Homo sapiens: one gene and its partners. The protein of the gene in region 7 purifies or fractionates together with the protein of the main gene of each other region. This does not show direct contact. Each region holds a gene or a part of one and is shown on either strand. Other genes may lie near its edges.

What was found.
Region 1: the proteins of NFIC (region 7) and CSE1L fractionate together in Homo sapiens (co-fractionation; one large-scale study listed by BioGRID). This does not show direct contact.
Region 2: the proteins of NFIC (region 7) and ZNF326 purify together in Homo sapiens (affinity purification with mass spectrometry, with the first as the bait; one large-scale study listed by BioGRID). This does not show direct contact.
Region 3: the proteins of NFIC (region 7) and TTLL12 purify together in Homo sapiens (affinity purification with mass spectrometry, with the first as the bait; one large-scale study listed by BioGRID). This does not show direct contact.
Region 4: the proteins of NFIC (region 7) and PSAT1 purify together in Homo sapiens (affinity purification with mass spectrometry, with the first as the bait; one large-scale study listed by BioGRID). This does not show direct contact.
Region 5: the proteins of NFIC (region 7) and PPA1 purify together in Homo sapiens (affinity purification with mass spectrometry, with the first as the bait; one large-scale study listed by BioGRID). This does not show direct contact.
Region 6: the proteins of NFIC (region 7) and LMAN2 purify together in Homo sapiens (affinity purification with mass spectrometry, with the first as the bait; one large-scale study listed by BioGRID). This does not show direct contact.

Annotation. Positions count from the first base shown.
Region 1 is NC_000020.11:49,091,312-49,094,380, reverse strand, and holds part of CSE1L (exportin-2), read right to left. Parts: intron 2,336-3,069; coding exon 2,254-2,335; intron 242-2,253; coding exon 95-241; intron 1-94. UniProt on the Homo sapiens protein: Export receptor for importin-alpha. Mediates importin-alpha re-export from the nucleus to the cytoplasm after import substrates (cargos) have been released into the nucleoplasm.
Region 2 is NC_000001.11:90,012,110-90,015,609, reverse strand, and holds part of ZNF326 (DBIRD complex subunit ZNF326), read right to left. Parts: intron 2,485-3,500; coding exon 2,373-2,484; intron 1-2,372. UniProt on the Homo sapiens protein: Core component of the DBIRD complex, a multiprotein complex that acts at the interface between core mRNP particles and RNA polymerase II (RNAPII) and integrates transcript elongation with the regulation of alternative splicing: the DBIRD complex affects local transcript elongation rates and alternative splicing of a large set of exons embedded in (A + T)-rich DNA regions.
Region 3 is NC_000022.11:43,170,135-43,173,634, forward strand, and holds part of TTLL12 (tubulin--tyrosine ligase-like protein 12), read right to left. Parts: intron 2,421-3,500; coding exon 2,269-2,420; intron 1,767-2,268; coding exon 1,685-1,766; intron 1-1,684. UniProt on the Homo sapiens protein: Negatively regulates post-translational modifications of tubulin, including detyrosination of the C-terminus and polyglutamylation of glutamate residues. Also, indirectly promotes histone H4 trimethylation at 'Lys-20' (H4K20me3).
Region 4 is NC_000009.12:78,324,625-78,328,124, reverse strand, and holds part of PSAT1 (phosphoserine aminotransferase), read right to left. Parts: intron 75-3,500; coding exon 1-74. UniProt on the Homo sapiens protein: Involved in L-serine biosynthesis via the phosphorylated pathway, a three-step pathway converting the glycolytic intermediate 3-phospho-D-glycerate into L-serine.
Region 5 is NC_000010.11:70,202,430-70,205,929, reverse strand, and holds the end of PPA1 (inorganic pyrophosphatase), read left to right. Parts: intron 1-1,014; coding exon 1,015-1,057; intron 1,058-2,743; coding exon 2,744-2,775; 3' UTR 2,776-3,095; downstream 3,096-3,500.
Region 6 is NC_000005.10:177,341,669-177,345,168, reverse strand, and holds part of LMAN2 (vesicular integral-membrane protein VIP36 precursor), read left to right. Parts: intron 1-3,500. UniProt on the Homo sapiens protein: Plays a role as an intracellular lectin in the early secretory pathway. Interacts with N-acetyl-D-galactosamine and high-mannose type glycans and may also bind to O-linked glycans.
Region 7 is NC_000019.10:3,380,083-3,383,582, reverse strand, and holds part of NFIC (nuclear factor 1 C-type), read right to left. Parts: intron 1,872-3,500; coding exon 1,340-1,871; intron 1-1,339.

The DNA of each region.
Region 1 (3,069 bases), on a different chromosome or scaffold from region 7:
TTCTCTTGGCCCCCAAGAGAATAAGCTTTGTTAATTTTGCAGTCATATGGGAAGGAAGCTGTAACTTACAAAAATATTAAAATGAAGTACTTACCACAGTTTGGTATACTCAGTGTCCATCATTGGGGGACATTCTGTTAGTAATTTGGTTATGCCAACCGCACAGATCTTTTTCTCTACATTTCCAGATACCTTCTGAATTTCAGGAATAATAATTTTTTCCAAAACCATTCCAAACATTCTATTAAAGCAAAATAAATCAACTTAATATTAGATTATCACTATAATGAAATAGTAAAATGCTTAGATGTTAGTTACTTCTTATGAATATGATAAATTACTAAATAACAAGACTGCTGTTTTTGATCATCTGAAGAGACTGAAAGTCAAAACATAAAAAAACCCCATCACACCTCTACCCTGTAGCCAAATGCCATAATCTTTTTCTTTTCTTTTTTTTTTTGAGACGGAGTTTCGCTCTTGTTGCCCAGGCTGGAGTGGAACGGTGTGATCTCAGCTCACTACAACCTCCACCTCCTGGGTTCAAGCAATTTGCCTGCCTCAGCCCCCTGAGTAGGTGGGATTACAGGTGCCCACCACCACGCCCGGCAAATTTTTGTATTTTTAGTAGAGATGGGGTTTCATTGTGTTGGCCAGGCTGATCTCGAACTCCTGACCTCAGGTGATCCACCTGCCTCAGCCTCCCAAAGTGCTAGGATTACAGGCGTGAGCCACCATTCCTGGCCCTCTCTGCTTTTTTCTTTAAAAATTACACCTGGCCAGTCTCAAAAAAAAAAAAGAAAAAAAAAAAAAAAAGAGAGAGGAGCAAGGAGGGAAAAAAGGAATCATCCCACCACCCAGAAACAACTAGTTTTAACATTTTTGGGTTATAAGCTTCCCAACTGTCTTTGCTTACATACCTGCAGGTACATAAATGCTAATGGCTATTTAAAATAATTCGGCCAATCATTCTATGTTGTTGCAAACATGCTAGAAGTGAAGTTTTCCGTAATTCTAAATGATGCAAAATCCTCAGTTTATGCGTTAATAGAACCAATTCTTTGAAGTGGAAATATGGCTCAAAGGGTATGGCAATTCTAATGCTCTGGATAAAAAGTGCATACATTTTGCTCTCTAGAAAGATCAGGCTAATTCAGGCTCCCACTAGCAGTGCATGAGATTTCCTCAAAATCCCCTACTGCCGGAAGCCATGTTTTCTGGTCTCCTTTCCAGAGTAATTCATTTTTTAGTCAATGTAGAATTTTTGAGACATAACTGAGGTACAGGGATCTAACTGTCCCCGAAGAAATTTTCCCTAAGAGTTGTTCTTTATCTTATCGTTATAATTGTTTTATTCCCTACTAATGGGAAATGCCACCTAAATACATTCTTTGCATATATACCAGATAAGTCAAAAACAAAGTTAATTTATTGGTCCTAAGTATTTCTCATTTGAAAAATTCTGCTGTGTTTGCATTAGCAGCACATATACTAAAATTGGAACGATATGGATTAGCACGATTTTTTAAAAAAGGGGGAAGGAAAATTCTGGTTTTTTTTTTTAATTATACTTTAAGTTCTAGGGTACATGTGCACAACGTGCAGGTTTGTTACATATGTATACATGTGCCAAGTTGGTTTACTGCACCCATTAACTCGTCATTTACATTAGGTATTTCTGCTAATGCTATCCCTCCCTCTGCCCTCCCTTCCCCTGCCCCCCATCCCACGACAGGCCCCAGAGTGTGATGTTCCCCGCCCTGTGTCCAAGTGTTCTCATTGTTCAATTCCCACCTATGAGTGAGAACATGTGGTGTTTTCTGCTGTTAGTTTTAATAAGGCAGGCTCCTGGAGACAACACTGACCATTTAACATAATATAGAACACTGGCTGTGGAGAATGCCAGTGTGTAGAGTAGATGGTCCTCTAATCTAGAGGATTAGAACAATGATTCCAGGGTGTTTTTTCTTTTTTTGAGATGGAGTCTCACTATATTGCCCAGGCTGGTCTCAAACTCCTGAGCTAAATCCGCCCTCCTCAGCCTCTCAGAGTGTGGGATTACGGGCGTGAGCCACCATGCTGGGCCAGGATTACTTTTTCTTTACTCCCAATACCTAAGAATATTTTGAAAACCATAGACACTATCTCCATACCAAGAACCACATCATCATCTATAAGACAGAGATACTGATTTGTACTAAAAAAAAAGTCAAAACATTTTCTTCCTTTAAAAAATAATAAAAACAAACTTACTTTGGTTGTATACCATCAAATATTTCTTGTAGTGCTAGTGCCCCATATTTTATGCAATACAAATTAATAAAGACTAAAAAACCTGTTGAAAGAAGATGCAGAATATCAGCATAGAGAACTCACGCACTAAACTGGTAACTGATAAGTCTGCAAAATAAACCTATGCTTAATCATTAACATCCAAAGGCTGTGGCATCAATACCTGCCTTCTAGTAAATAGAAAACTTGTCTTTCTGTCATAGACCTTTACATGCTGTCTCTCTTTGATTTATATTTCCTTATAATATTCTCTCTACTGAAAAAATGTTTTGGTATCCAACCATAAACCAACCTCTGGAACACAATATGACTAACACTAACTTAATGTTTGGAGAACACAAACATCTTAAAATATTTTCTTTTTTCTTGTGAGAAGGTTTCACTCTATCACCTAGGCTGGGTGCAGGAGCGTGATCACAGCTCACGCAGCCTTAACTTCCCAGGGTCAAGTGATCCTCCCACCTCAGCCTCCTGAGTAGCTGGGGCTACAGGCACACACCACCATGCTTGGCTGTTTTGTAGAGACAGGGTCTTACCATGTTGCCCAGGCTGGTCGTTAACTCCTGGACTCAAGGAATACTCCCACTTTCACCTCCCAAAGTGCTGGGATTACAGATGAGAGCCACTGCACCAGGCCCTTACAATATTTTCTTTTTTTTTTTTGAGACAGGGTCTCACTCTGTCACCTAGGATGGAGTGCAGTGGGTGTAATCTTGGCTCACTGCAGCCTCAACCTCTGGGACTTAGGTGATGCTCCTACTTCAGCCTCCCAAGCAG
Region 2 (3,500 bases), on a different chromosome or scaffold from region 7:
CTCCCAAGCTCAAGCTATCCTCCTACCTCAGCCTCCCAAGTGGCTGGGACCACAGGCACGTGCCACCACACCTGGCTAATTTTTGTATTTTTTGTAGAAATGAGGTTTCACCATGTTGCCCAAGCTGGTTTTGAACTCCTAGGCTCAAGCAATCCGCCTGCCTTGGCCTCCCAAGGTACTGGAATTACAGGCATGAGCTACCATGCTTGGTCTCCTATACCCTTATTTAGAAGTTATATCTCATGAGACTACATTGTACTCCTGGTATCCTTCACCATACACTATTATTTATGTACATCTCTCACACATCCATCTCTTTCTCCCTAGGTTCCCTTAAGGGTAGATATAAACCTTTCCATGTGCTTTATTATGTGGGAAGCATTCAAATATCCAAGGGAAGGAACCTATCACAAGAATAGTGATTTACTCAATCTCGAATCCTCATAACTCAAAGTAAAACTGCTCTGATAAATGAAAATAACTTAGACTACTTTAAATAAATTATATCCTAAAATGATAATTTATGAGTTAACATTCTTTTGGTTATATCATCAGATTTATATTTAGAGTTACAGAGAAAATAGCTAAATGAAAGTTCAATTCTTTCATTTTCTCTATATCACAATTTTATATATTATATTAACATGAACATAATCCATATCTAAAATTTTTCATGAGAAAAGTACTCATAGGGCAATTAAATTTAAAAAATTGCATCTTATAATGTAAAATGATTTTTACACTCCAAGACGCTGATAATTTAAAGTCATTTCTACACCAAAATATTAACTATGCCTGTTACTTCTACCAAAAGAAGGAATCACAAGAGATAATGAATGGGACAGAGAACTCACAAGGACTAAAAATAGCAGTAGTTCTTGAAACTAGAACTACTCTTCTTTTTATGGATTGTTTTGTTTTGTTTAGAGATGAGGTCTTGCCACGTTGCCCAGGCTGGCCTCAAAATTCTGGGCTCAAGGCTTTAAGAAAAATTTAGACATTTTTAAAAAACTGCTAAATTGCTAATAGTTATAATATACTGTCACCAACAAATTTTAAGCGTCCTTTGACCATTCCTTAATTAGCAAATCAAATTTCTCCTTAGTAATAAAATGGCATACTATTATTTAAATTTTTAGTTTAATGAAATTACTGTTAAGTTTAAACAATTTCCTTAAAATTATTACTAGCTGTTTTTTGTTTCCTCATCATATTAAACAGCTTAGTTTTCTTACTTTTTAAAATAATTTGGGTGATGTTTTAATCTAACTTGGACATTAATCATTTCTCATGTTTATATTTTCCAAGTCTGTTTGCACTCCTTTCAAATTTTAAGTTTTTATTTAGCCAAATCTGCTCATAATTTCCTTTGTAATTTATTCTATAACTTTTAAGCCTGGGAAAAAAATCTCCTTGCAGAACATTTTGTTTTTCTGTAATTTCATTTTTTTTTTACTACATTCATTCCAGGTGTCATATGAGGAGGCTCTAAACTGATTTTTGTTGTTATTTCATTGTTCAACCAATTCCCCTCTTTTTTTTTTTGAGACAGAGTCTCGCTCTGTTGCCCAGGCTGGAGTGCAGTGGCTCAATCTCATCTCACTGCAAGCTCCGACTCCCGGGTTCACGCCATCGTCCCGCCTCAGCCTCCCGAGTAGCTGGGACTACAGGCACCCACCACACCTGGCTAATTTTTTTTTGTATTTTTTTAGTAGAGACGGGGTTTCACCGTGTTAGCCAGGATGGTCTTGATCTCCTGACCTCGTGATCTGCCCGCCTCGGCCTCCCAAAGTGCTGGGATTACAGGCATGAGCCACTGTGCCTAGCCCAATTCCCCTCTTATTTCTAATATCCTCTTTATTAAATATTACATTCTTCCTTACAGTCTGTTCACAGGCTAATCTGGTATAATAATTAGCTTTGTGTATTACCACATATTTTTAACTATTATAGCTTTTTAATGATTGATTATCTATAAAAGCCAGTACCTACTCATTTACTCTTCTTCAGAATTTCCTTTGGGATCTGGATTGGAAAGAACTTACATATTTGTAATATTTAATTCCTGCCCATGAAAATCACTATGACTCCATACAGTCAAATCTCAATGACAAGTGTTTCTTTTTAAGAATACTGTTATTTCTGAATATTTGATATCTTTTGGATTGCCAATATGAATAGAATGCCTTTTTTCTTATGTTTTCTAAGTAGTGATTACATATAAATATCAAAAACCAAAAGCATTCCTCTGTATCTTTGAACAAGTCTTTTCATTTGAATCTTAAGAACTTTTTAATATTACAATTGATGTGTTGGCTTTTTCTAGGAAATCATTTTTTAATGAACCTAATTTTCTGACTCTAAGTACAAACCTGTATCCATCTCCGTATTTCTCACTGTTTTTTTCTCTTCTGCGCCTTTGTTTCTCTCGCCGAGCCTCAATTCGCCGCTTTTCTTCCTCTTCATTTTTAGGATCAGTTTTTGCTAGGATATTACACAAAAAAGTAAAAGCTAAAATTCATTTTTCCATTCTCTCTTTCCAATCATCAGTTCGTAAAGTACATACTTATGAGGTATACTTAGTGATTGTAATCTAAAATTGAACTCACCAAAAAAATCGGAGTTTGAGACTATCCAGTATTTCTGAAACTTCACTAAATGAACTTCATTCATTTGAATACCATCATCATGAATTCTGTCATATCTGCTTGTCATCTATGTGATTATTTGCTACATATTTTTCTTTAAATGTGCTCATTTGTCCTATCCTTATTCTAAGCAATAATATCCTTATCACCTAAAATCATCTTGGGCATCACATACTTTGGGAAAAACACTAAAGTAACCTGACCGAGCATGAAAATGGAAGTCCAGTAAACACTGCAGAGCCCTGGATGCAAGAACTCATGTTCATATTGTAGGAGCTCTCAGAAAGTTTCTTAAAATTTGTAACCTCCAAAATAAAAGCAAATTTGTTCTCTTTTTTAAAAAATATTCTCTATTGTGATAAAATACACAAAACATAAGATTTACTAGTTTAACCATTTTAAAATGTGCAATTCAATGGCATTAAGTACATTCACAAAGTTACGCAACCATCTCCACTATCTAGTTACAGAACTGTTCATCATCCCATAAAGCAGTCACTCCCCATTTCAACCCTACCCTAAGGCCCTGGTAACCACTAATCTGCTTTCTGATCTACGGATTTGCCTATTCTAAGTATTTCATATACCTAGAATCATCCTGTCTGTTGCCTTTTTGGTCTGACTTTTATTTAGCATGTTTTCACAGTTCACCCATGTTGTACCATGTATTAGTAAGTACTTCCTTTTTTATGGTTTAATAATATTCCATTGTATGAATAACCCACATTTTTTAAACCATTCTTCTGTTGATGTATATTTCAATTGTTTCTACCTTTTGGCAATTATGAATAATGCTACTATAAACATTCATATATAAATTTTTGTTTGGACCAGGCACAGTGGCTCATGCCT
Region 3 (3,500 bases), on a different chromosome or scaffold from region 7:
GCCCGCCATCCATGCCATGCTGGACGTACCTCCCCAGGCACAGAGCTCCAGGAGAGGACTCCCGGGATGACCCCCACAGTACAGAAGGGAGGGGCTCAGAACCTGAGGGCGACTTCCAACAATGTCCTGGGGCCCTGCTGGGGGGTCTGGGTCCTAGGGAGTAGGCTTCAACACAGGCAAGGATAAGACAGACAGAAGCAACAGGACCACTCGGCCCCTGTGGGGAGTGTGTGCTGGTATAGTCACCAGTGCATGGCAGGGCCCTTTCTCCAAGTCCTCCTAGAGGACTCCTCGGACATGGGCATGGCCAGGTGCCTCCACGCATGTTCACGCGCCATGATTTATCATTAGTGAAGACCTCAGATGACCAATCGCCGCCACAGTTAGCAACAAGCCCGAACCTCAAAACCTCAAAACACGCCACTCAGCCAACAAAGCAAGCTGCAGAAGGATCCGTTGAATAAGATGATATTTACATAAAAACCTAAGTAGGAGGCCGGGCATGGTGGCTCACGCCTGTAATCCCAGCACTTTAGGAGGCTGAGGCAGGCGGAGCGCTTGAGTCCAGGAGTTTCAGACAAGCCTGGGCAACATGGCGAAACCCCGTCTCTACTAAAAATACAAAAAAATTAGCCGGGCGTGGAGGCACGTGCCCGTAGTCCCAGCTACTTTAGGGGGCTGAGGCAGAAGGATGGCTTGGGCCCAGGAGATTGAGGTTGCAGTGAGCCCAGATCATGCCTCCGCACTCCAGCCTGGGTGACAGCGTGAGACATTGTCTCTCAAAAAAACAAAACAAAACAAAAAACCTAAGTAAGCAAAACAGCAGCTTGAATGGTCAGGAACATACTCCTGCTGAAAAGAACCAAAGACATGCCTGGGAATGACAGCCACACGTTCAGGGGTCGGGGAGCGTTGGGGCTGGCTGCATGGGGAGTCCGCGGCACCTGCAAGGCTGGCGACAGGCAGGGTGGGGTAGGTGTTCTGTGCATCTGAAACACTCATTAACCAGCCAGGCCACAGAGGCCTTCCAGGACTTCCTTTCTTCCTTCCTGTACCCAGAGCTGGCCTCCTGCTTCTGTGCAGGCTGTGCCTACCTGTCCACGTACACTGGCTGGCCAGCTCTGGTTTCTCGCCCCCACCTTGGAAGGGCCTTTGTCCAGATGCCCCTGAGCTCCAGGTGCTCAGATGGTGCAGCTGCCATTCACTGAGTGCCCACTGCATGGGGCACCGCTCAACACTGTGCACCAGGGAGGACAGGAGGTCCTAGACCCGGGCAGGGTCACGGGCCAGCAGCCAGCCGGACCAGGTGGGGCCTCCCCGCCCCCGCCTGCCCTGGCACTCACAGGGTGGTCTGCTTTTCCGGTTGAAGTGGTGGTGAGGAGTAAGCCCCGGCTGGGAACACACTGTCTCAACCTGCTGCTGGACCCATCCCCCTCTGTGTCCACATTATCTCAAACACAGCCAGTGGCCCTCTGTGCCGTGGGGAGACCTACCTGAGACAACACAGAACCCAGCCTGGCTCATGATGGCAGCGCTAACAATCGCCTTCCATAGCAGGAACTCAGGAGGCGGCTCCTGGGACTGGCCTGTGTGCCAGTCCTCCTAGGAGGCAGTGTGGGCGGGGTGGGGTCGGGTGTGCCCTGGCCTCTGTGTGAACCTGCTCTGCACCTCCCTCAGGCCCTACCTGCTTCAGCACCACATCCGGGTCATAGTTCATGACCGTGAAGTGCTTCTCGTAGTCATCCAGGTCGTTGAGTGCAAAGGCCCTGGAAGACAAGTGTGCAGACACATATGGGTTCTTGAGCGGCCTTGTCCCTGCGAGGGAGGTGCCACCCACTCAGCCTTCCCAACTAGGGGTTCAGGGCTCAGGGCAGGACCACCTGCTGCTCAGGCGGGAGCCTGTTCCCTTGTCTGTGTGGCTGGGGGAGCCCCACAGCCCCACTGAGCTGGGGTGGAGGTGAGTGAGGTGCTAGCTGTGAAGCCTCTGCAGGTCCATAAAAATGGCACCTGGTTCTCATGTTGGTGCCCATTTTACAAAGAATGTTCACATCCATTACTGTGGGCAACACCAGAACTCTGAGGTGGGCAGGGCAAGTCACCGCCAATTAACACCAAGGGAGATGGGCTCCAAGGGCCGCTAGCTGGGTGAGTGATGGAGGGTGCCTTCCAACAACATTTTCTGATTCCAAAAAGGGCCCATCACCCACCCGCTACCTCCACCCGGTCACCCAGCTCCCCGACCCTGGACCCAGCCGGCCCTCCACTTACCGGTTGGAGAACCGCAGCCAGAACACATCATACACGAACAACCGTAGGGGCCTCACTGACCGCAGCAGCACGATGTAGCGGATGTCGAACTTGACCTTTCCCACGTCTTCTCGAAGGAACAACACGGGACTTTCGATGTACTTGGACACAACCTGGAGGACACAGGTGCAAGCTCGCTGGTGGCCAGGACAGAGCCCCCTGGGGCTCCCGAGCACACAAAGCCACGCAGGGGGCACAGACATGGCTGCACTTTACTCCTCCTTCTGCCTTTTCAAACCTGCCTAAGTTGCTGCAAAGTCTTTTTTTTTTTTTTGAGACAGAGTTTTGTTCTGTTGCCCAAGCTGGAGTGCGGTGGCACAATGTTGGCTCACTGCAACCTCTGCCTCCCGGGTTCAAGCGATTCTCCTGCCTCAGCCTCCTGAGTAGCTGGGATTACAGGTGCCCGCCACCACCCCCAGCTAATTTCTGTATTTTTAGTAGAGAAGGGGTTTCTCCATGTTGGCCAGGCTGGTTTCGAACTCTTGACCTCAGGTGATCCGCCCACCTTGGCCTCCCAAAGTGCTGGGATTACAGGTGTGAGCCACCGCACCCTGAAGCAAAGTCTTTATATCCATTTTTAATTGAAATGAAATATAAATTCTCACCCATAATTCCATCCACCCCCATCCCATGGCCTGAAGTCTCCACGACAATCGTCCTCATGATGCATTTCCCGCCAGCCTCTGACTATGTACACAGTCCAGGCAGATCCTGTGTCCTGCAATCCCAATACTGCTTCTGGATGTCCCCTCACTATGAATCTTTACCACGGCTCTGAGAGGCTCCTTGTCCAGGCTCAGCCACCTCACCCTGCTGGGCAGCCATACCTGGCACACTATGTGGTAGGAACTTTGCGATTAGACGCACCCAGGACAGTTCTTTTTTTAAAGACTGGGTCTTGCTCTGTCGCCCAGGGCGGAGTGCAGTGACGCGATCACAGCTCACTGCAGCCTCAACCTCCCGGGCTCAAGTGATCCTCCTGCCTTAGCCTCCTGAGAAGCTGGGACTACAGGTGTGTGCCAACATGCCCAGATAATTTTTAAAGTTTTTTCCCTTGTAGAAACGAGGTCTCCCTATGTTGCTCAGGTTGGTTCCAAACTTCTGGGCTCAAGTGATCCTCCTCCACTTCCCAGAGTGCTGAGATTACAGGTGTAAGCCACCCTGCCCAGCCTGGACCTGTCCATAAGGACCAT
Region 4 (3,500 bases), on a different chromosome or scaffold from region 7:
CATCATCTCCTTTGGCATTGCCAATGCGGAATGGAATATTCATCTTGCTTCTATTTTGGGGCTCCACTGGACAACTGAAAAACATGTTTATTATTCCAGCTACTTTTCTGAAATGTATGGGTTGTCATAAACAAATCAACAGATTTTTTTTTCTTAACACTTCCTAGATGCAAGCAGAAGATTTTTTAAAAAACAAAAAACAAAAAATCTGCCCCAGCACATTTATTGTTTACTTAGGGAAAACAAACTCTTGCATATGGAACAGTGGGTTATCATCCCCTTGTATGACTTGTACTTAATTTCCATCAGCCTCAGTTTCCTCACCTGAATACTGGGAATAATAATATCTCCATTTCAGACTAGTTGTGACGGTTTAGTGGTACTACATATATGAAGCTTCCAACACATGGCAGCTGCACGGCAAATGTGAGTGACCTCTTTCTCTGCAAGGCTGCAGAGAAATAATAAGTTGGTCCTATAGTGGCTGTAAGGCAAAAATAATGAGCAGCAACTTCCAAAGGACTTACCATGGTGTATTGCCCCAAGCTGTGTGACCCTGAGCAAGTTACTTAACCTCTCTGCTATGCCTCACCTTCCTCATCTGAACAGTGGGAATAATAGAGGAACCTACCTCAACCACCTCAAGTTGTTGTAAGCATTAAATAAGTCAGTCTTTATAGAGAATTTTTGTGGCCCATTTAAAAATAAGAAGAGGTGGAATCTAGTTTTCCATCTTTTGAATCTGGGCTGGCCTTTTGACTGGCTTTGGCCAAGAGTTTACAACAGACTCTTTGCACCTTCCAAGCCTAGGTCTCAAAAGACCTTACAGCCTCTCCTCCCGCTCTCTTAAAATATTGCTGTCATGGCCAAGCGCGGTGGCTCACACCTATAATCCCAGCACTTTGGGAAGCCGAGGCAGGTGGATCACGAGGTCAGGAGTTTGAGATCAGCCTGATTAACATGGTGAAACCCCATCTCGACTGAAAAAAAAAAATACAAAAATTAGCTGGGCGTGCTGGCACACACCTGTAATCCCAGCTACTCAGGAGGCTGAGGCAGGAGAATTGCTTGAACTCGGGAGGTGGAGATTGCAGTGAGCCAAGATTGTGCCACAGCACTCTAGCCTGGGCAACAGAGCAAGACTCTGTCTCAAAAAAAAAAAAAAAAAATATATATATATATATATATATTGCTGTCACTTAAGCATGTTTGAGCTAGAGTGCTGGAGATAAGTGTCCCAGCCAACAGCCAGCACCAACTGCCAGATATGTGAAACCACTGTAGACCATCTGGCTCCAAATGAATAACCAGATGACGACTTCAGTAGAATGAGGCATCCCAAGACCAGCAGAAGAACCCCCTAGCTGAGCTCAGCCCAACCTGCTGACCCAAAAAACTACGAGCAAGTGAATGGTGGTTGTTTTCAGTCACTTAAGTTTTAAGGTGTTCTATGATGCAGAAACAAATAACTGACACAATTTAAAACTATGTCTGCAACATATTAAATGCTATATAAGTACCTGTTAATACATCTATCTTTTTAAAAATTTTTATTTTAAATTTTTCTGGGTACATAGTAGGTGTACATATTTATGGGAATAAATTCATCTTTTTATTCCCAGCACTTTGCATAAGGTACATATCGACTCTCAAAAATGATTATGAGTGAATTTTTGTCTAGGAAAGGTTCGTGTTTGACTTCAGTTTCTGCTTTGGAAAATAAGCAGCCAAAATTATTTTTCACTGGCAACCAAAGGAGACAAATGGAAGAATAGCTGACATTACTCTGCAATTTTTTTAAAAAAAGGTACAATGTGTAATAACCCTCTCTTTCCCTTTGCTCAAGTATATCCTCTTTTATTCTTACACTTCTACGGGTGGAATTCATTAAAATTACAGCAAATAAAGGCAGTGTGAGAGGCCCCCTGAGGGCACATCTGTAATTCTTGTTAAAGTTAATGAGAGTCTAGTACACAGCTTCAAGCAAAAGAGAGGCCAAAGGGGGAAACAAATATGGGGAAAAGACTTTGAGCCTGAATTCCAGGCCCCACTATTCGAAGTGGTAGGTTTCACGGCTGACATTGAAAATAAACATTCAACGGCTACCCTCTTTTGATATTCCACTGCCTCAGGCTCCCAATGTGAGGCTCCAATCAGAGAGGTGGAGCAACAAAAAGCACATTTAACTTAACAGAAAAAAATTGAAAGCAGGAAGAATTAAGCATCCGTATTTACAGTTCCTCTCCCTGCAATTTACCCATCCTATCATGAAAGTAGAAGATATCACAAAGCAATAATGTCATAAAAGTGAGAAATTAAAGACTAAATTGTCATGCAACAAATATTTATGCACTACCCATGGGAGAGTGTCTCTAGTATGGGGCTGGGGGGAGAAAAAAAGATTAAGGGAAATTAACTGCTTCCAATCTACAGAGAGATGGCTCCGGAGGGAATCACAATTATACGTAGGAAGTGCTGTAACAGCCAAGGGCTGCAAAGGCAGAGAAGCCAGATAAGGAATTCAGCAGCGGCAAGGTTGACAGGTTTCAGGGGAGGGGACAAGGCATGGTTCCAACAGATGAGAAGAAAGGGCATCTGGCAGACAGCTGCATCTGCAAAGGCACAAAGGCTTCCGGCAAGTCTGCTGACTTAACTGGAGCACTGGCTTCCTGGCTGGGGTGGCTGGAAGACCTACAGGGCCGGGGCTGTGGAGTGCCCTGCTGGGAACTGGACTGGATCCTTGAGCAATGAGGAGTAATCCACAACAAAATGCGGTCTGTGTTTTAGAAAAATAATTACAGCACACAGAGGAGAGACTGGGGGGTGAAGAAACTGGGAACGCACAGACCTGCTGGAAAGCTCTTATGAAGAACTTTCTACGGTTCCAGTATCTAATATGGCCACAGTAGTCTTGATGACCAAAATCATTTTTTTCCATCTTTAGGAAGCTACATGGGAACAACCAGATCACACAGCCCTGAAGCTACTGTGCATGTGAATGAACCTGTCTTCTGCTTCATTCCTGAAAGCTGCACCTCTGTTTTGGATTCTATATTGTGTTTGTGTATTTACATTTTGATTCATAGTAATGTCTCATGCTATGGGTTTGCACTGAACGCAAACTGTAAATTAAAAAAAGGAAATGGCTGGAAACAAACAAAAAAAAAGCTTTCTAGGTCAAAAGAACTAGGGCCTGTACCAAGGTGCCGGCACCGAGGAGCTTCAAGCATGGGCGGCAAACTCTAAGCCAGCATGTCCCCGCACCACTCACATAAATGAGTAGGACGGGCCGGTGTGGAAGGTGCAAACAAGCTCTCTCACATTTTAAACGTGGAGGACTAGTCTGAAAAAGAGGCTCTCCCTTTTTTTTTTCCTGAAACATATGGCTATCCCTGTCAAAGTTTCTTTTTCCCATTTTCACAGGCACATGGATTATGGAATAAGAAACCAGATCTCTAAGTATCTTCCAAGAGCCCAATATTGGCTCAAGTTGTGTTTTT
Region 5 (3,500 bases), on a different chromosome or scaffold from region 7:
TGACTTGGTTCTAGCAAGGACTGAGGAAGGTATCAAGTTTTAGGTACCATTGCAGGAATGATTCATAATCTAAGAAAGGCTTTCATGTGAGGTAGTAAAAGCACCCGTCAAAGCAATAATTTTGTTTTTGTACTATTTTTAATTATTTGGTTTGGATTAACCAAAAAATTGAACGAGATCATCTTAAATTATTTTCATTTATAATATTAAATAAGGAAAACAAAAGAAAATGAGGTCTGACTTTTTTACTGCCTTGTAAATGGGGTAGAACAAGGAAAAAAGGACAATTTAATGATGAAACCAGTACATTTAGTTTTATCTTTATTTATGTATGAATCCCGACAAAGTTGAGATAAATAAGAAAAATTATAAGGGAAAAGCCAGTGGTTAACTATTATAATTTTTCAGTGAGAACACTGCCCATATTTTATAAATATGTGTGTATATATAAAATTGTTATATATGCATAAATCAGTTTTTATTATTTCAAAAAACATTCTTATTATTCTGCATGTCATAAAAAGTCAAGAGGCTTGAATTTTTTTTTTTTTTTTTGAGACAAGTCTCGCTCTGTTGCCCAGACTGGAGTGCAGTGGCGCAATCTCAGCTTACTGCAACCTCCGCCTCCCAGGTTCAAGCGGTTCTCTGCCTCAGCCTCCCGAGCAGCTGGGATTACAGGTGCCCGCCACCATGCCCAGCTTTTATTTTTAGTAGAGACGGGGTTTCACCATCTTGGCCAGGCTGGTCTTGAACTCCTGACCTTGTGATCCACCCACTTCAGCCTCCCGAAGTGTTGGGATTATGGGCATGAGCCACTGCACTGTCCAAGAGGCTTGAATTTGTTAGCATCTCAGCAGTAGAGCAAACCTTCTATTGTTCCTATATATTATAAATTACGTTTAGATCCTAAAATTTGGGATAGTCTTCAGATTCTCTTAAATTTTTGTCAGTATACCTTTTTAGCTTTTTAAAAAATGAGATTAGACTAATAGATTTTAATATTTTATATTTTAGTTACCACCACCCTGTGAATCTGCCTGCACAGTACCAACAGACGGTAAGATTTCTATTCCAGTAAAATTTCATTAAACATTACACAGTTATGGAAAAATTATGTTACTTTTATTTTTAGTTGACAAATGATAATTAAATATATTTATGGGTACAGTGTGATGTTTTGATATATGTTTACAATGTGGAATGATTAAATCTGGCTAATTACGAAATCATTACCTCACATACTTAATCATTATTTGTTGTGTGGTAAAAACATTTGAAATCTACTCTTAGCAATTTTGAAATAGATGTTACAGTCACCATCCTGTGCAATAGATCACTAAAGCTTATTCCTTTTGTCTAACTAAAACTTGGTACCCTTTGACCATCGCCTGCCCTTTCCCCATCCTTCAGCTCCTGGCAACCACCATTCTACTCTCTACCTCTATGAATTTACCTTTTTTATATTGCACATATAAATGAGATCATGTGGTATTTGTCTTTCTGTACCTGGCTTGTTTTTTGTTTTTTGACACAGAGTCACCCAGGCTGTCACTCTGTCACCCAGGCTGGAGTGCAGGGGCACAATCACAGCTCATTGTACCCGTAACCCCCCCAAGTTAAAGTGATTCTCCCATCTCAGCCTCCCAAATAGCTGGGACTGCAGACATGTGCCACCATACCTGTCTAATTTTTTTATAATTTGTAGAGATAGAGTTTCACCATGTTGCCCAAGCTGGTCTCAAACCAGGTCTCGAACCAGGCTGGTCTTGAACACTAATCAGGCCGGGTTTCGCCATGTCACCCAGGCTGGCGATCCACCTACCTTGTCCTCCCAAAGTGCTAGGATTACAGGCGTGAGCCACTGCACGCAGCCACGTACATATTTTTAACATACACAGGAAGAGAGGGAAGAAGGGTGAGAAGAGAAGCATTTTTAGAATTCTGTAGTGTACGTGGGAAGGAAGATGAGCTGCTACATACCACCTTTAGTGCCACACTGTATCACAGTGGTTTCCAAACCATGACCCATTGTGCCCCTCTGAGTTCCATGGAGGTGCCCGCTGGACACTGGAGGGGACCCTGAGTGGGCTGATCTCCACATTCCCACCTGGCCACAGGCTGCTTCACCCAGAAAACAGTTCTCTCCTCCTTAGATGTCAGAATTCTCTGTAAGATTTTTCTGGTAAGAAAATGATTCTGCCACTTAAAAAAACAAGTTTGAAGGCTGGGTGTGGTGGCTCACACCTGTCATCCCAGCACTTTGGGAGGCTGAGGCGGGCGGATCACTTGAGCCCAGGAGTTCGAGACCAGCCTGGCCAACATGGAGAAACCATGTCTCTACAAAAAAAAAATACAAAAATTTGCTAGATGTGGTGGCACACGTCTGTAATACCAGCTGCTGGGGAGACTGAGGCACGAGAATTGCTTGAACCTGGAAGATGGAGGTTGCAGTGAGCCATGATTGCTGCCACTGCACTGCAATCTGGGCAAGAGAGTGAGACCCTGTCTCGAAATTAAAAAAAAAAGTTTGAAAATCACACTATGCAATTAGCATGAAGTGTAAGGAAGCCCAAAAGAAAACACCTGCATTTGCTGTAGAGAAATTTTGTATGTATGCCTGTTAATTTTCAGGTAATTCATAGTAGGATTCATTAAAGCAAGTATATTAGTCTTTGTTATATGTTAGGTGTATTTTTGATTCTCAACAGGAATTCTAATTTGTTTTTCTTTTCTCTGAATACAGTGGATAAGTGGTTCCATCACCAGAAAAACTAATGAGATTTCTCTGGAATACAAGCTGATATTGCTACATCGTGTTCATCTGGATGTATTAGAAGTAAAAGTAGTAGCTTTTCAAAGCTTTAAATTTGTAGAACTCATCTAACTAAAGTAAATTCTGCTGTGACTAATCCAATATACTCAGAATGTTATCCATCTAAAGCATTTTTCATATCTCAACTAAGATAACTTTTAGCACATGCTTAAATATCAAAGCAGTTGTCATTTGGAAGTCACTTGTGAATAGATGTGCAAGGGGAGCACATATTGGATGTATATGTTACCATATGTTAGGAAATAAAATTATTTTGCTGAAACTTGGCTTAGGATATTTTTATTTTAATCTGAAGCCAACATTAAGTAGGTATGGGTATTTTTTGGTGTTTGTTTTCTGTTGATAGTCTTATAATTCAAATTTATAATTATTAGACGAAGAAATCGCTTATATTTATAGTACTCTTGATACTATGCTCTAGTACATAAGTCCTAGCATACCATTCTAAAGCAAAAGTTTTTAAATTTATATCATATTAGCAGAAAGCACAATGTTGCTCACCCTTTGAAGTTATATATTAATAGTTATTTTTTTACTTCTTCAGTCAACTAATTGGACGCTTAAGTCATTTATATTATATTCTAAGTTATCAGCTGAACAAACCAGTTTGAATGCCAGCCCATCTTCTTACTAGCTCTGTAATCTTAAGTCAGTTTACCAACCACTC
Region 6 (3,500 bases), on a different chromosome or scaffold from region 7:
AGGGTTTCACCATGTTGACTAGGCTGGTCGTGAACTCTGGGCTCAAGCAGTCCACCCACCTTGCCCTCCCAGAGTGCTGGGATTACAGGCATGAGCCACTGCGCCCAGCCTGACAATGGCATTTAAAAGATGTCATGGCTATGTAAAAAAATGTTTCCACTGTTGTACGTACACATCTGCACATGCAAGAAAATTTCTCAAATCTTTCTTCCTTTTCTTTTCTCTTCTCTTCTTTCTCTTCTTTTCTTTTCTTTTCTTTTTTTGAGACAGGGTCTCACTCTGTTGCCCAGGCTGGAGTGCAGTGGCGCGATCTCGGCTCACCACAACCTCTGCCTCCCGGGTTCAAGTGATTTTCCTGCCTCAGCCTCCCTAGTAGCTGGGACTACAGGCGCCCGCCACCGCACCCGGCTAATTTTTGTATTTTTAGTAGGACGAGGTTTCACCATGTTGGCCAGGCTTGGTCTTGAGCTCCTGACCTCAGGTGATCTGCCTGCCTCGGCCTCCCAAAGTGCTGGGATTACAGGTGTGAGCCACTGCATCTGGTCAAATTTCTCAAATATTTCTATTGTGATAAAATGTATGTAACACAGGCTGGGCGCGGTGGCTCACGCCTATAATCCCAGCACTTTGGGAGACCGAGGTAGGTGGATCACGAGGTCAGGAGATCAAGACCATCCTGGCCAACATGGTGAAACCCCGTCTCTACTAAAAATACAACTAATTAGCTGGTCATGGTGGCGTGTTCCTGTAATCCCAGCTACTCAGGAGGCTGAGGCAGGAGAATTGAACCAGGGAGGCAGAGGTTGCAGTGAGCTGAGATCACGCCACTGCACTCCACCCTGGCGACAGAGCAAGACTCTGTCTCAAAAAAAAAAAAAAAAAAAAAAGTAACAAAGCGTACCATTTTAACCAGTTTTTAAAATTAAAAAAAAATTTTTTTTTTTTTAGAGATGGGGGGGGTCTCACTTTGTCACGGAGGCTGGAGTGCAGTGGTGCAATCCTAGCTCATTGCAGCCTCGAACTCCTGGAGTCCAGTGATCCTCCTGCTTAGTGTCCTGAGTAGCTGGGATTACAAGGCATGTGCTATTGTGCCTGGCTAATTTTTTTTTTTTTAATTTTTTGTAGAGCTGGGGTCTCACTATGCTGCCCCGGGCTGGTCTCGAACTCCTGGCCTCAAGCAATCCTCCTGCCTTGGCCTCCCAAAGTGCTGGGATTACAGGCGTGAGCTACTGCGCCTGGCCCATTTTAACCATTTTTAAGTGTACAGGTCAGTGGCATTAAGTGCATTCACATTGCTGTGTAGCCATCACCACCGTCTGTCTCCAGAACTCTTTGCTCATCCCAACTGAAACTCTCTACCCATTTAACAATCACTCCCATCCCCACAGTCCCTGGTAACCACCATTCTACCTCATCTCTGTAAATTTGACTATTCTAGGCATCTCACATAAATGATAAATGGAGGCATACAATATTTGTCTTCTTTGACTTATTTTACTGAGCATATGTTGAACGTTCCTCCATACTGTAGTATATGTCAGTACTGCATTCCTTTTTGTTGCTGAGTAATATTCGTGTGTGTGTGTGTGTGTGTGTGTGTGTGTCTAGACCACATTCCGTGTATTCATCTATTCGTAATGGACACTTGGGTTGTTTCCATCTGTTGCCATTGTGAATAGTGCTGCAGTGAACATTGGTATACAAGTATCTGTTTGAATCCTACTTTCAGTTCTTTTGGGTATATACCCAGGAAGTAGAATCTCTGGATCATACGGTCATTCTATTTTTACTTTTTTGAGGACTACCAAACGGTTTTCTGTAGCAACTGCACCATTTTATATTCCCACCAGCAATGCACAAGGATTCCAATTTCTCCACATCCTTGCCAACATTTGTTATTATTTATTTATTTATTGAGATGAAGTCTCGCCCTGTCGCCAGGCTGGAGTGCAGTGGCGCGATCTCGGCTCGCTGGAACCTCTGCCTCCCGGGTTCAAGTGATTTTCCTGCCTCAGCCTCCCGAATAGCTGGGACTACAGGTGCCTGCCACCATGCCCAGTTAATTTTTTTAATATTTTTAGTAGAGACAGGGTTTCACCGTGTTAGCCAGGACGGTCTCCATCTCTTGACCTCGTGATCTGCCCGCCTTGGCCTCCCAAAGTGCTGGGACTACAGGCATGAGCCACCGCGCCCGGCCTAGGGTTTTTTAATATATTCTAGATATTAATCCCTTATCAGATATGTGATTTGCAAATATTTTCTCCTATTCTGTGGGTTGTCTTTTCACCCTCTTGATCATGCTCTTTGATGTACAAAAATTTTAGTTTTAGTGAAGTACAATTTATCTTTTTTTTTTTTTTGTCTGTGCTTTTGGTGCTATATCCAAGAAATCTTTACTAAATCCAGTGTCATGAACATTTTTTCCCTAGATTTTCTTCTAAGAGTTTTAAAGGGTTTTTTTGTTGGTTTGTTTATTGTTTTTTGAGGCAGGGTCTCATTTTATTGCCTAGGCCGGAGTGCAGTGGCGTGAACACGGCTCACTGCAGCCTTGACCTCTCCAGCTCAAGTGATCCTCCTGCCTCAGCCCCACAAGTAGCTGGGACTACAGGCATGCGCAGTCAGGCCCAGCTAATTTTTGTATTTTTTTGTAGAGACAGGTTTTCACCGTGTTGCCTGGGCTAGTCTTGAACTTCTGCGCTCTGGTGATCCACCTGCCTCAGCCTCCCAAAGTGTTTCAGATTACAGGTGTGAGCCACTGCAACCGGCCAGGTTTGAGCTCTTAAGTTTAGATCTCTGATCTTTATATACTTATTATTATTTTTTTTTATAGAGATGGAGTCTTGCTGTGTTGCCCAGGCTGGTCTTGAACTCCTTGGCTCAAGCAAACCTCCCATGATGGCCTCCCAAGGTGCTGGGACTACAGGTATGAGCTACTGCACCTGGCCTCTTTACTTTTCAAATTAAACTTTTTATTTTGACATAATTATAAATTCACATGCCGTTGCAGGAAATAATACAGAGATCCTAGGTGCCCTTGGGTTTTGTTTTTTTATTTAGCATTTAGTCCATTTACATTTAATGAAATATGATACATTTGGGTTTAATCTGCTATCTTACTCTATATATTCAAATTGCCTATTCTCTGTTCATTTTTCTCTCTAGTCTTCTTTTAGGTTAATTTTTATTATCCTATTTTTCCTCTTCTATTAGCTTGAAAGTTATATGCTCTTTTCTCAGTTTTAAGTGGTCACCCTAGAATTTAAAGCAGGCATTCATGTTGTACCAAAGACTAATGATAATGTGTACTTTACCTTCTTCCTGGACAGTGCAAGGATCCTAACACACTTTAACTCCATTTATTGTTGTCATTTGTTTTAATTATTTCTGTTTTAAATCACACAACCCATTGTTTTGTGCAGTCAGATATTTAGATTTTCACCCTTATAGTCACTGTATTTGTTGTTCTTCGTTCCTTCTGGAATCTGACTTTACATCTGGAT
Region 7 (3,500 bases):
GCATGATCTTCTGGAACCTCCCATAGCCCCATCCAGCTACAGACTGATCATCTCCACCATTTGGCAGGCAAGAGAAACTGAAGTCCAAGAGGGCCACGCAGCCAAGAAGCTGCAGGACCAACCCTGCTCTTAGCACCGGGACCAGAGGCACAGGCATCAGGCCTCTCATCTCCACGCTCCTGCCAGGACCCCTGGGGCATCTCCTTGTTCACTGTGGCCTGGCCATCCTGCAGAGCTGAGCTCAGCTGCACCTCCTCCTCTGGGAAGCCGCCTTGGATTTCCTCAACCCCACAGAGCTAGCTGGTCTCAACATCAGGCATTTGACCACCGGCAAACACCCCTCTGGCAGGGCCAGGCTCATCAGGCCTCTGCTGGCATGGTCTGAGAGTCAATCAACCAACAAGCATTCACAGAAAGCGGTGCCAGGACTCTCTTGGCTCTCCTCGGAGGGCTGGGATGGCCTGTCCCTCTCCTCTCCTCACCCCTGCTCCCAGCAAGGCCGTCCGTTGTGCCCAAGACCATCTAGGACATTCTCATCCCCCTGAGACCTCAAGGGCCTTCCTGCCTCCTCCCTCAGACGTGAGGGTGAGATCCTGCCTCTACCATTGGAGCGCCACAGCCCACCTGCCTCCTCTGTCAAAAAAACCTCCTTGTACCATCTCTCACTTGAGACCTCTGCTAGGCCTGCCTCCTCCATCTGACCTCCACATCCCATCAGCAGCCACCCTGGGCCCTGCATGCACTGGCCTCCTCCCTCAGACGCTCCTTGCACCATATCACTTGCATTAGACGCTCTCCTAGGCCTGCCTCCCCCCTCAGACCACCACATCACATCTACACATGCTGGCTTCTTCCCTCAGACCCTCCTTGCCCCGTGTCACCCGGCGTCAGACGCTCTCCCAGGCCCGCCTCCCCGCTTGGACCACCACATCACATCTACACGCACCAGCCTCCTCCCTCAGACCCTCCTTGCACCATGTCACCCCCATCAGATGCTCTCCCAGGCCTGCTGCCCTGCCTGGACCACCACATCACATCTATATGCACTGGCCTCCTCTCTCAGACTCTCCTTGTGCCATATCACCTACTTTACATATTCTCCTAGACTCGCCTCCCCTCTCAGACCACCACATCACATCTATACCCACCAGCCTCCTCCCTCAGATGCTCCGTGCCCCGTGTCGCCCCCATTGGGCACTCTCCAAGGCCCACTTCCCCTCTCAGACCACCACATCATACCCACACGCACTGGCCTCCTCCCTCAGGCCCTCCTGGCCCCGTGTCACCACCATCAGACACCCTCCCCGCTGGCCGCTCCGCTCAGGCCACCACACCTCACCTCGCTCACGCACGAAGTAGGCCAGGTAGAGGTCCAGCTCCTTGACGGCCACGCCAATGTGGTGCGGCTGCACGCACAGGACCGGGTGACCGCACTGCGCAGCCTTGACCAGGCGCTCGCCGTCGGTGCTCTCCAGCGGGATGCCCTTGAACAGGATGACCATGACCAGGTCCAGCCGCCACACCTTGTCCGCCTGCCGGAGACAGTCGATGCGCCGCATCTTGCCCTTCTGGTCGGGGTTGGAGAGCACGCAGCCCGGCGCCTTCTTGCCGGTGATGCTCAGCACGAAGTCCTCGCGGCACTCGGGCCGGATGTCCTTGCGCAGCTTGGCCAGCAGCCGCGACGCCCACTTCTGCTTGACCTCGGGCTTCTCGCCCAGCAGCTCGTCCTTGACCGCACGCTCCTCGTCCTTCGACATCCGCTTCTCGTGCTTCTTGAAGTACTTGCGCTTCCGCGCCTGCAGGTTGAACCAGGTGTAGGCGAAGGCGCGGACGTGAGGCAGCAGGGCCTCGATGAACGGGTGGAACTCATCCTGCAGGCCGGAGAGGCGAGAGGTCAGGAGCGCCAGGGACGCAGAGGGCGGACCCACTGCCCGGCCCCGAAGGCTGAGGTCGGAGGGGCCCTGAACAGACCCGCAGAGTGGGAGGGGCTGGGCAGAGGTGGGCAGGGGGTCGCTGCGGACCCGTGCACGCCGCCGGAGGCACGCAAAAGGCCCGGGGGACCCAGGAGAAGTTTATCAGGGACCTGCAAGAACCCATCGCCCAGATGAGCAAACAGACTTGGACTATGTGAGAGGCACAAATCAAGGCGGAAGTTTGTGGAGGATCATTTTTTTTTTTTTTTTTTTTGAGACGGAGTCTTGCTCTTAACGCTAAGGCTGGAGTGCAGTGGCGCAATCTCGGCCCACTGCAACCTCCACCTCCCGGGTTCAAGCGATTCTCCTGCCTCAGCCTCCCGAGTAGCTAGGATTACAGATGCCCACCACCACGCCCAGCTAATTTTTGTATTTTTAGGAAAGATGGGGTTTCACCATGTTGGCCAGGATGGTCTCGATCTCCTGACCTCTGATCCGCCCGCCTCGGCTCTCGGCCTCCCCAAGTGCTGGGATGACAGGTGTGAGCCACCATGCCCAGCCGTGGAGGACCTATGTTGAACCCCAGCATGCAGATGGAGCAAGCTAAGGGGGCCAGGTGGAGGCTCATGGACAACCCATTGTACAGACGGGTAAAACTGAGGTTGGGAGAACAAAGATGTCAGGGACCTATTCTCTGCCTATTGCAGCTAGGGTTGGGCTGGGTGTAATGGCTCACACTTGTAATCCCAGCGCTTCGGGAGGCCGAGGAGGGAGGACTGCTTGAGCCCAGAAGTTTGAGACCAGTCTGAGCCATATGGTAAAACCCCATCGCTACAAAACAAATGAACAAACAAAATCAAAAAAACAAAAATTAGCCAGGTATGGTGGTTTGCAACTGTAGTCCCAGCTAGTTGGGAGGCTGGGGTGGGAGGATCATTTGAGCCCAGGAGTTTAATGCTGCAGTGAGCTGTGATGGTGCCACTGCACTCCAGCCTGGGCGACAGAGCAAGACTGTCACAAAAAAAAAAAAAAAAAAAAAAAGCCTGGGCGCAGTGGCTCACACCTGTAATCCCAGCACTTTGGGAGACCGAAGCAGGTGGATCACCTGAGGTTAGGAGCTTGAGACCAGCCCGGCCAACATGGCAAAACCCCGTCCCTACTAAAAATACAAAAAAATGTAGCCAGGCATATTGGAGCACACCTGTAATCCCAGCTACTCAGGAGGCTGAGACAGGAGAATCGCTTGAACCTGGGAGGCAGAGGTTGCAGTGAGCTCAGATTGTGCCACTGCACTCCAGCCTGGGAGCCTGGGTGCCAAGAGTGAAACACTGTCTCAAAAAAAAAAAAAAAAAAAAAAAAAGAACAAGGCTGGGCACGGTGGCTCACGCTTGTAATCCCAGCACTTTGGGAGGCCAAGGCGGGCAGATCACGAGGTCAGGAGATTGAGACCATCCTGGCTAACACAGTGAAACCCCGTCTCTACTGAAAAAAAAACAAAAAAATTAGCCGGGCGTGGTGTCGGGCGCCTGTAGTCCCAGCTACTCAGGAGGCTGAGGCAGGAGATTGGCATGAACCCGGGAGGCGGAG